3 separate regions of the Homo sapiens genome follow, and regions 1 and 2 are each linked to region 3. The links come from fine-mapping of genetic effects on gene expression. A gene starts in region 3. Each other region holds a variant in brackets. All regions are shown on one strand. Distances are between the middles of the regions. Region 1 overlaps BNIP2 (BCL2 interacting protein 2). Region 2 overlaps BNIP2 (BCL2 interacting protein 2). Region 3 holds the start of BNIP2 (BCL2 interacting protein 2).

Region 1 (2,814 bases), 22 kb after region 3:
GTTCTGATTATCAGATTCACATTCTTCCATGTAACTTCTTGGACTTGGTAGAAGGCTGTTAACATAAATAACTGAGTATTACAATGCATGTGGAAAAGTTTCTTTGTTCTGCTCACCTGAGGTTTTAGTCTATTTAATGTATGAAAGTCAGATTTATTAAGTAAATTTTTACTTTCTACATCATGTAGTAAATATTTTTGGTTTTGCTGGAAAATTTAAATGAGTTTATTTTTAGTAGCTTTTTTCAAGTTTTTATTCATTTTCATAACATGTATATTTACTGAAATAACTCTTCCCTACAAAGGTATGAAGAAGAAAAGTTTAAAAAGAAACAAAAAAGGTATATGCACACCTTGACTGGGTTGCATCTAGACTAGTCCATTTGCATTGCAGACTAACTCTTCCTTATTGGTTGGTTAGCTTGTAGACAAAGATAATAGCATTTGCAAATATAAATGTACCCCAACTTCCAAATACAGGGTGAACCCAGAGTTCCTAAGGCTGAATATGACTTGGATTCACCATGTTTTATTGCCATATATGATGCCAATTAGCAATTAAAAACCACAGACCCTTCTCTCTCCTTCTTAGTCTAAGTACTAATGGTGAAACCAGAGAAATTACTAAAAATGGTATTTGGAACACCAAATAATTTTAAGACTTTATCTGTTTCACCATTTTCTTTAAATCGCTAACTTGTGCTTTTGAAATATTTTTGCAGACTTTTTAAAAGTTCTCAATTTATTTCCCTGGGGTTGATTATTATATTTGCAATGCATATATACTTTGGCTAACCAACATTGGTTTCCTTTTATGCTTAAATTAAATGGCTTGCTAACCAGTCAAATTCTACATGTGATAAAATACCTAAAATCTCAGTGTCCCATTTAACAGTTAAACACTTCACTTTCTATTTTAAATTTAATTTTGAACACTTCTGCTTTGAGCATAACAAACTATTATCTATTGATACCTTGACATAGATGATGAAAGGCAAGGGTATAAAATACTTAGAATTTTGTATAATAATTTAGAAAAACGTAGAATTTAGATCTAGTTTGTTAGATCTTTAAAATATTGGCAATTAAATTAGCAAAACATAGTTTAATACAATCTTAAGAGTTACGGTGAGAGATTTATATGTAATTATCTTGACCATTCTAAGGAGCCAACTGTAACTAACTGGAACATTCTTAACTTTGAACACATTTTGTTTCTGTTGATGAGTGAGAATTTAGTAGACTTTGTGATAGAATCAGTTTTACACTTCTATATGACACTTCACAGTTTAACCAACACTTTAACATAGAAATGTAGACAGTGATTTTAGATCATGCTGATTTCACATTCCTTTCTAGGCATTGCTGTGCATTCGACAGACAAGTGGCTGAAATTAAAAATATGATTTGTAATTGTAGAATATTTTGAAGCCAGCTGCTTCATAGATTTCACAGTGAATTGCCTTTGTTGATAAAATATGCTGTATTAAGCCTTTTTAAAAAAA[G/AG]TTTTTAATACTGTTAAGTAATTTAGACATCAGAAAAAATATGGAATTTGTACTTTTTATTTAAATATATTGTTTGAAACCTGTCACTATTTTATCTTGATTTTTTTTTTACTTGTGTTTAACCATAAATAGAATGATTACATGTATCTTTCAAAAACGTTCTGTTTTTTGTAGTTTCTTTAGTCTTAAAAAATAATAAATTTTTGTCAATCTGAAAATGATAAAATTTAATTTTTAAATTAAATTTAGGTAGAGAGGCATGTTTTGTTTTGAGACAGAGTTTCACTCTTGTCACCCAGGCAGGAGTGCAATGGCCCAGTCTCAGCTAACTGCAATCTCTGCCTCCCGGGTTCAAGCGATTCTGCTGCCTCAGCCCCCCAAGTAGCTGGGATTACAGGCACCCACCACCATGCCTGGCTAATTTTTGCATTTTTAGTAGAGACTGGGTTTCACCATGTTGGCCAGGATGGTCTCGAACTCCTGATCTCAAGTGATCCACCCACCTCGGCCTCCCAAAGTGCTGGGATTACAGGCGTCAGCTACCACGCCCAGCCTAAACCAAACTTTACAGAAGCTAGGTGCAAGGGAGCTTATTTAAGGTGACAACTGCATGATATGATAAGTAGTGGTGCTAAGAAGAGTATGAAGCTATGAGTCCCTATGGCAGGTTTTTGGGGAGCAGGGGAAGAAGGGGCAAAACCATTTTCTTGAGGGGCTTGTGGGGAAGAGGGTTGAAGAAATGTTGACAACAGGGAGATCCAGTGTCCCCAGTGACAGAAAAAGGATAGCAGTTTAAATGTTTAAAATGTTTCTTTCAAACAACTGGATGCAAGTGTGGCCATGCAGATACAGATTGTTAAAATGTTTCAGGGGAGTTTAAAAATAATTATGAAATTAGTTGGTAAGGATATTTCAGATGTTAAGAGGATTTGATATATTTTGCATGCCTTATCAGAAATACATTCCAAATTTTTTATAACAATATTTTAAATATTTTAAAATGTTACTTTGGCTTTACCACAGACCAGGGCTTTTAGGTCTGTTTCACTAATATTCAGGTGGGCATAGTAATGGGTGATGAGAATAAAAACATATGAAAAATATTTTTCTTTATCTAATACCGGATTGTTTTAAAGGTCCCTTCATCAGTTATTCAGACCACTACAAATGTAATAGTAATAGACTGTTAGCTTTGAAGGGTTGTCTGTAATTATTATGTGGTAATTATGTAATCCTTCTAATGCCCACATGCGTAAATTTTGATATGACTGATGTCCAACCCACCACTAAATAAATAAGCTTTTTGATGG
Region 2 (2,814 bases), 26 kb after region 3:
GCATTTTCATATTTTAGTTAACAGAATCATTTTTGAGGGAGTTGTTTTTCCTGCCATTTTCGTACCACCTGGATCCCTACCACAGCCAAGTTACAGGTCAAGATTTTAATATGCCATGTAATTTGAACTTTTAAGAAAGTTTATGGCTGGGCACGGTGGCTCACGCCTGTAATCCCAGCACTTTGGGAGGCTGAGGCAGGCAGATCACGAGGTCAGGAGATCGAGACCATCCTGGCTAACATGGTGAAACCCCACCTCTACTAAAAATACGAAAAATTAGCCGGGCATGGTGGCGGGCGCCTGTAGTCCCAGCAACTCGGGAGGCTGAGGCAGGACAATGGTGTGAACCCAGGAGGCGGAGATTGCAGCGAGCTGAGATTGTGCCACTGCACTCCAGCCTGGGTGACAGAGCAAGACTCCGTCTCAAAAATAAGAAAAAAAAAAAGTTTATATGCATTTGTATGTAAAGTATTTTATAATCTTTAAAGAAACAACGGTCACATTTCTTGCCAGTGTCCTCCTGCCTTTAAAAATTCTCTTTTCTGGTTGGGGAAATGATGTTTGGTAACTGTTTTTACTATGTCTGCTTCTTTGCAAAGCTTTGTCTTTAACAGAGTAATATTCTATGCTAAAATAGTCATTATTTTTAGAAAGAAAATTGTTCAGTTGCTGGTTTCTTATTTTATATATTCTTCATTAAACAGAGTTGATCAAGAACTTAATGGAAAACAAGATGAACCGAAAAATGAACAGTAAGTTTGGCATCTAGTCCAAACAAGACTGAAGAATGTGCTGATGGAGCAGTGCTGTTTCTGCATTCATAATGCATTTATTGGCCCATATTTTTATGTAACCTGTTACAAAATAGACTTGACTTTTTCATAATGGACTTTTGTATTATACAAGGGACTGTTCACTGCTGTACTGGTTTGCAAATTTCTTGAATTTAGCTCTTTAATAGCTAACTGTATTATTATCGTTTTATATTTTATATTGCTAAATAGAGAACCACACTTTATATAAAGTAGTTTTTGCATTTGTTTATTGAATGATGCATCTTCTTCGGTGAAATATTTATATGCATAAATGGCAAAGGAAAGAAATAATATATATTTTTATGTCATTGAGCAATATTTTTTAATGTGTACCTGTCTTATGGAAGAAATATGCAGGTATATAAGACCACGATTTTCTAAAGTGCATATTAGAATTTTTGTTTTTGTAAATGGTTAAATACATTTCCTGGGTAACTTAGGAAATTAAGTTTTTCATAAGGCAACAGATGGTTAAACTGATTGTCATGAATACCCAAAGATCATGTATATAATCGAAGTGTATTAGTACCATCCCAAGGTTTTTTTCTCATTTAACATATTTGTTTCATAATTCAGCAAGTACAGATGCAAGCGCATTGCACACTTTTTCCTTTCTAAACTTAAAGACAAGTCAAAAAGCCATTCTTAGAACTAGAGGATTTAAGAGGGTAGGAATTAGGGTTT[G/C]TATATATGTATATATGGGACATTTTATCTTCTGGCCCAAAGTCAGAACTTTATAAAAATCTTGAGTTTGTTCACTAATGTGAAATAAGCTATGTGTCCAGGGTATTGCTCCCCTGAGTGTATATGAGTGCTGAGTAGTATTGCAGAGAATGTGATGAGTTATTCACTGTCACAACTTTTTCTATAGAAAACAGGGGCTGCTTTTTAAACTCTCACTATGGGCACTTTACCAAAATACTTCCATATCAATTATTTGAACTCGGTAGTTGTTTGACCTAGTTAGATGTGGTGTTTATTCAAGTTTGTATGAAATCATGTTTGACAATACTGTAAATTAGGTTAATTTTGTAAGTCTTAGCATCATCATATTGTGCTGTTTTGGATAACACGTTTGTTACAAGCATTTAAACTGTTTCATTTGGTAGTACCTTTACATTGAAATAAATTGTGTTTGTGCCTCCAAACAAAAAGTTTAATTACCGACAAAATTATTTCTAAAACAACAGATTGATCTGATATTGTGTCATATACTTGAAAGGCTCATACACAGCTGGTAAGCATAATACCTTCCAAATTTGAAGGTCATGGCTACTCTTCAACCCTTCCTGTAAGGTATTTTACAAAACAGTGGCCTAGAGTAGCAAAATTGAAGTGGATGTGAGCTAACCTTTCAAGATTTAGTCTATCCTAGATTGAACACACATGTGGCTGTGACCATTCTCATGTACTTACAAACCTTCTGTTACAAAAGGGAACTTTCCTATATTTTTTGTCCTCCTCAGTCCTAAACTTGGCATGCTAACTTAAAACCAGTTATAGGAGAGAGATGCTGGAGGATTCCCAGGATGAAACATTCCTCAGCAGCCTCCTGACTTAACTCAGATCCAGCAGCTCTTGGCAGATCCTGAACTAATGTCATTACAGTGAATTGAGCCAAAACGATTATTGCTTGCTCACATTTTAGGAACACTTGTTGTTGAAGAAGCAAACTAACAATAACAAGTTAGGCATTCCTTCTGAATTTACCATATAAGGATTATGTATAAACAATTATATTGAATTTGTCATTAGATTCTATATTTGTAGACGATTTAACGTAGTCTTTCATCTGTACATCTTTATCTTGCTCAAAATGGGCTGAGGTTTTTAATAGGTGGTTTTCTACCACATTAAGTACTTGGTTCTTCAGTTTAAAAAATATGAAGAATAACTTCAACTCTTTTTTGCATTATTTTGATTTTTGATTTTGCAGTCATTGCTCCTAACTGTAGATACATGTTGCAAAAGTGATGTTTTTCTGAATTTTTTTTAAAAG
Region 3 (2,643 bases):
TCTTTCTTTCTCTGTCTCTTTTTTTTTTTTTTTTTTTAAGAGATGGGGTCTCGCCATGTTGCCCTGAGGTCTGGCGATCTACCGACTCGGCCTCTCAAAGTGCTGGGATTACAGTCATGAGCCAGCACGCCCAACTGAGAGAGACTATGATGTTCTCCAAACAAATCTCATTTGGTTGAAACTCTACAGCTGAGTATGGTCTAATTTGAGTAGTTTACCTTGAGTACTCTAACCATGGTCTATAGACCTGGGCTCTTCTGAGAACTGTTTGCAAATGGTTCACAGAGAGAGAGTAGAAAACTCTATGTCAATTTTGCAGGTAATTTTATGGCTGTTAACTCTAACGATAAAAAGTTTTGACTTGGACTTTGTATGTCTTTTCATTTTTCTGTTTTATTAACTTGTCAAAAACTAATTGAAAATTGAAAAAAATAAACCGACCGTTCCCCCAGTGAAGAGAAGCACTGCTGTAAAGCTTTTCACACTCAAATATTACCAAACTCTAAGGTCGCTTCTGAGGCCTAACTCCCCAAAATGATGCCTCGGATATTTTTCCTCGCCTTATTTCTTTTTTTTCTTTTTCTTTTTTTTTTTTTTTCCTTTTTCCTTTTATTTGAGACGGAGTTTTTGCTCTGTTGCCCAAGCTGGAGTGCAATGGCACGATCTCGGCTCACTGCAAACTCCAACTCCGCCTCCGCCTCCGCCCTCGCCTCCTGAGTAGTTGGGATTACAGACGCGCGCCACCACGCCCAGCTAATTTTTGTTTGTTTAGTAGAGACGAGGTGTCACCATGTTGGCCAGGCTGGTCTCGAGCTCTTGACCTCCGGTAATCCACCCGCCTCGCCCTCCCAAAGTGCTGGGATTACAAGCGTAAACCACCGCGCCCGACCTCCTCCCCTTATTTCATCCATTTTATAATTCACATTATTGATCGCTGATAATTGCACCTATTGTAATGATACTGATAATTGCACCTGTTGTAATAATATTGATATTGATAATTGCACCTATTGTATTACAATATTATTATTGATATCGATAATTTCACCTACTGTAATGATCAATAAAGGCAGGCAGAAAGAAAACAAAAGTAACTGAAACTACCAGGCAGCGTCCCTGCGAACAGCAAAGAGGGAAGAAACGCCTTGAGGCGTAGTAACGCCACCAATAAGGAGTCGACGCGACGGGTCCGCCCACAGGCAAGGAAGGCCGACCCCGCGAGTGCAGGCGCGAGCGCTAGCCCGTGACGTCTGAGGGGGTTGGGGGGATGCTGTGTGGGTTTCAAGAAGACGCCACGCCTCCGCCGCCGCCACGCCCCCGCCGCCTCCACCGCCGGCTGCCGCGCCCGGAGGAGGTCGGGATGTTATCACTTCCGCCGGGGCTTCTCACTGTGTCCGGGTCAGCTGCTGCCGCCGACGCCGTACCGCTGCGGCCGGGGGATTGGGCCGGGGTCTCCACCGCCGACCGAGGGGAGCGGGCTCCGCTCGGCCCTGCTTTTTGCGACCTGGCCGTCAGCCCCACGTCGCCGGCCTGGAGGGGCGAAGAGGACGAGGGGGCCAAGGCTTCCTCCGGGGTGAGTGCGGCCTGGGAGAACTCGGCACGGTGGCTCCGGAGCTGGACTGGGAACCGGCCTAGGGGCGAAAGTCTGTCGGGCGCGTGCCCACGACGTCCGGGGAGAGGAAACCCAGAGAGTTACCCTTGGTAGGGGGAGCCATAGAACCTGCTCGGGAGGTGCTTCCTGGATCCCCGCCCTGCTTAGGTCCCCGCCCTTGGCTTGGGTCCTGTTTGTATTTGGCAGTTTGGCCCCCCACCCCGTCGCTTTTCCGTTTCTGGTAGTTGTGCTCGGGATGGAACCTTGCCCCTCCTCCGCTCCCCCACCCTTTTACCCTGGTGTGGGTGAAGTGGCTGGGCTACGATGGTTCAGTATTTATGACCAGCGTCCGTCCTGGTACAGAACAAAGAAACTTGGACTTCTGGTATGCCTCGTAACCGCGGGGAATAGACACGGAAGCAGCATAAGTAATCAGGGCTTTAATAGATCTTCCCTAGTACGCTAAACCAAATACAGAGTGTGTACGTCAAAAGCCGAGTCCCCGCGTGAATCTAGACACAACCCTTTCTGTTTAAATACCTGGCAAAATGGTTTGGATTTCTGGATGCATTTCATGCCGCTGGAGAGTTACTTGTCTGTGTCTTGTGAGCTCTTTGACGAAACAGCTTTTCCGGTGTTGCATCAAGATAGTTACGGTGCCTCCTATTTATTTAATTGAATAAACTATGTGATTGCATTTTAGTGTTGCTTTTTTCATTCTCACCTTCTCTTGATTAGGATCTCTATTTCACCTAATACCTGATTTCGTATTTTCAATTAAATGTAGTTTTTCTAACATTTTATAGGAATCTCTGCAATTGTAGAAACAAATTCTGTAATTTGTAAATGGATGTTTCCTCAAAGTTACAACTGACCTTACCCAATTAAGTTACCCCTGCAGACTAGTTTCTTGATCATTTTGCACATATTCTTAGTTCTTTTTGGTTTACATTTTCTCTAAACTCTATTCCTAGTCTTCATATTCTCTAGTGCAGCCTAATACTGCTGGGCTTAGACCGGAAGTATGACAGATCCACTTCTGCAAACGGAAC

Evidence for each region. PIP is the estimated chance that this variant, and not a neighbour inherited with it, causes the effect. A credible set is the group of variants that fine-mapping cannot tell apart.
Region 1: its variant is the best candidate, but not a certain one, in a credible set for the expression of BNIP2 in whole blood (INTERVAL, PIP 0.51).
Region 2: its variant is the best candidate, but not a certain one, in a credible set for the expression of BNIP2 in lymphoblastoid cells (GTEx, PIP 0.85).

The regions. Positions count from the first base shown.
Region 1 is chr15:59,665,629-59,668,442 of GRCh38, reverse strand. All of the region lies in intron 9 of BNIP2 (BCL2 interacting protein 2), which reads left to right. Among named protein-coding and RNA genes, the nearest start is that of GTF2A2, 9.5 kb to the right of the region's middle. The variant G/AG (reference allele first, on the strand shown) is at 1,505.
Region 2 is chr15:59,662,011-59,664,824 of GRCh38, reverse strand. It overlaps BNIP2 (BCL2 interacting protein 2), which reads left to right. Exons shown (of 10, transcript NM_004330.4): 10 at 705-2,814. The coding sequence ends at 756. Among named protein-coding and RNA genes, the nearest start is that of GTF2A2, 5.9 kb to the right of the region's middle. The variant G/C (reference allele first, on the strand shown) is at 1,500.
Region 3 is chr15:59,688,065-59,690,707 of GRCh38, reverse strand. It overlaps BNIP2 (BCL2 interacting protein 2), which reads left to right and starts at 1,388. Exons shown (of 10, transcript NM_004330.4): 1 at 1,388-1,573. RefSeq lists a silencer at 1,111-1,620 and an enhancer at 1,034-1,682.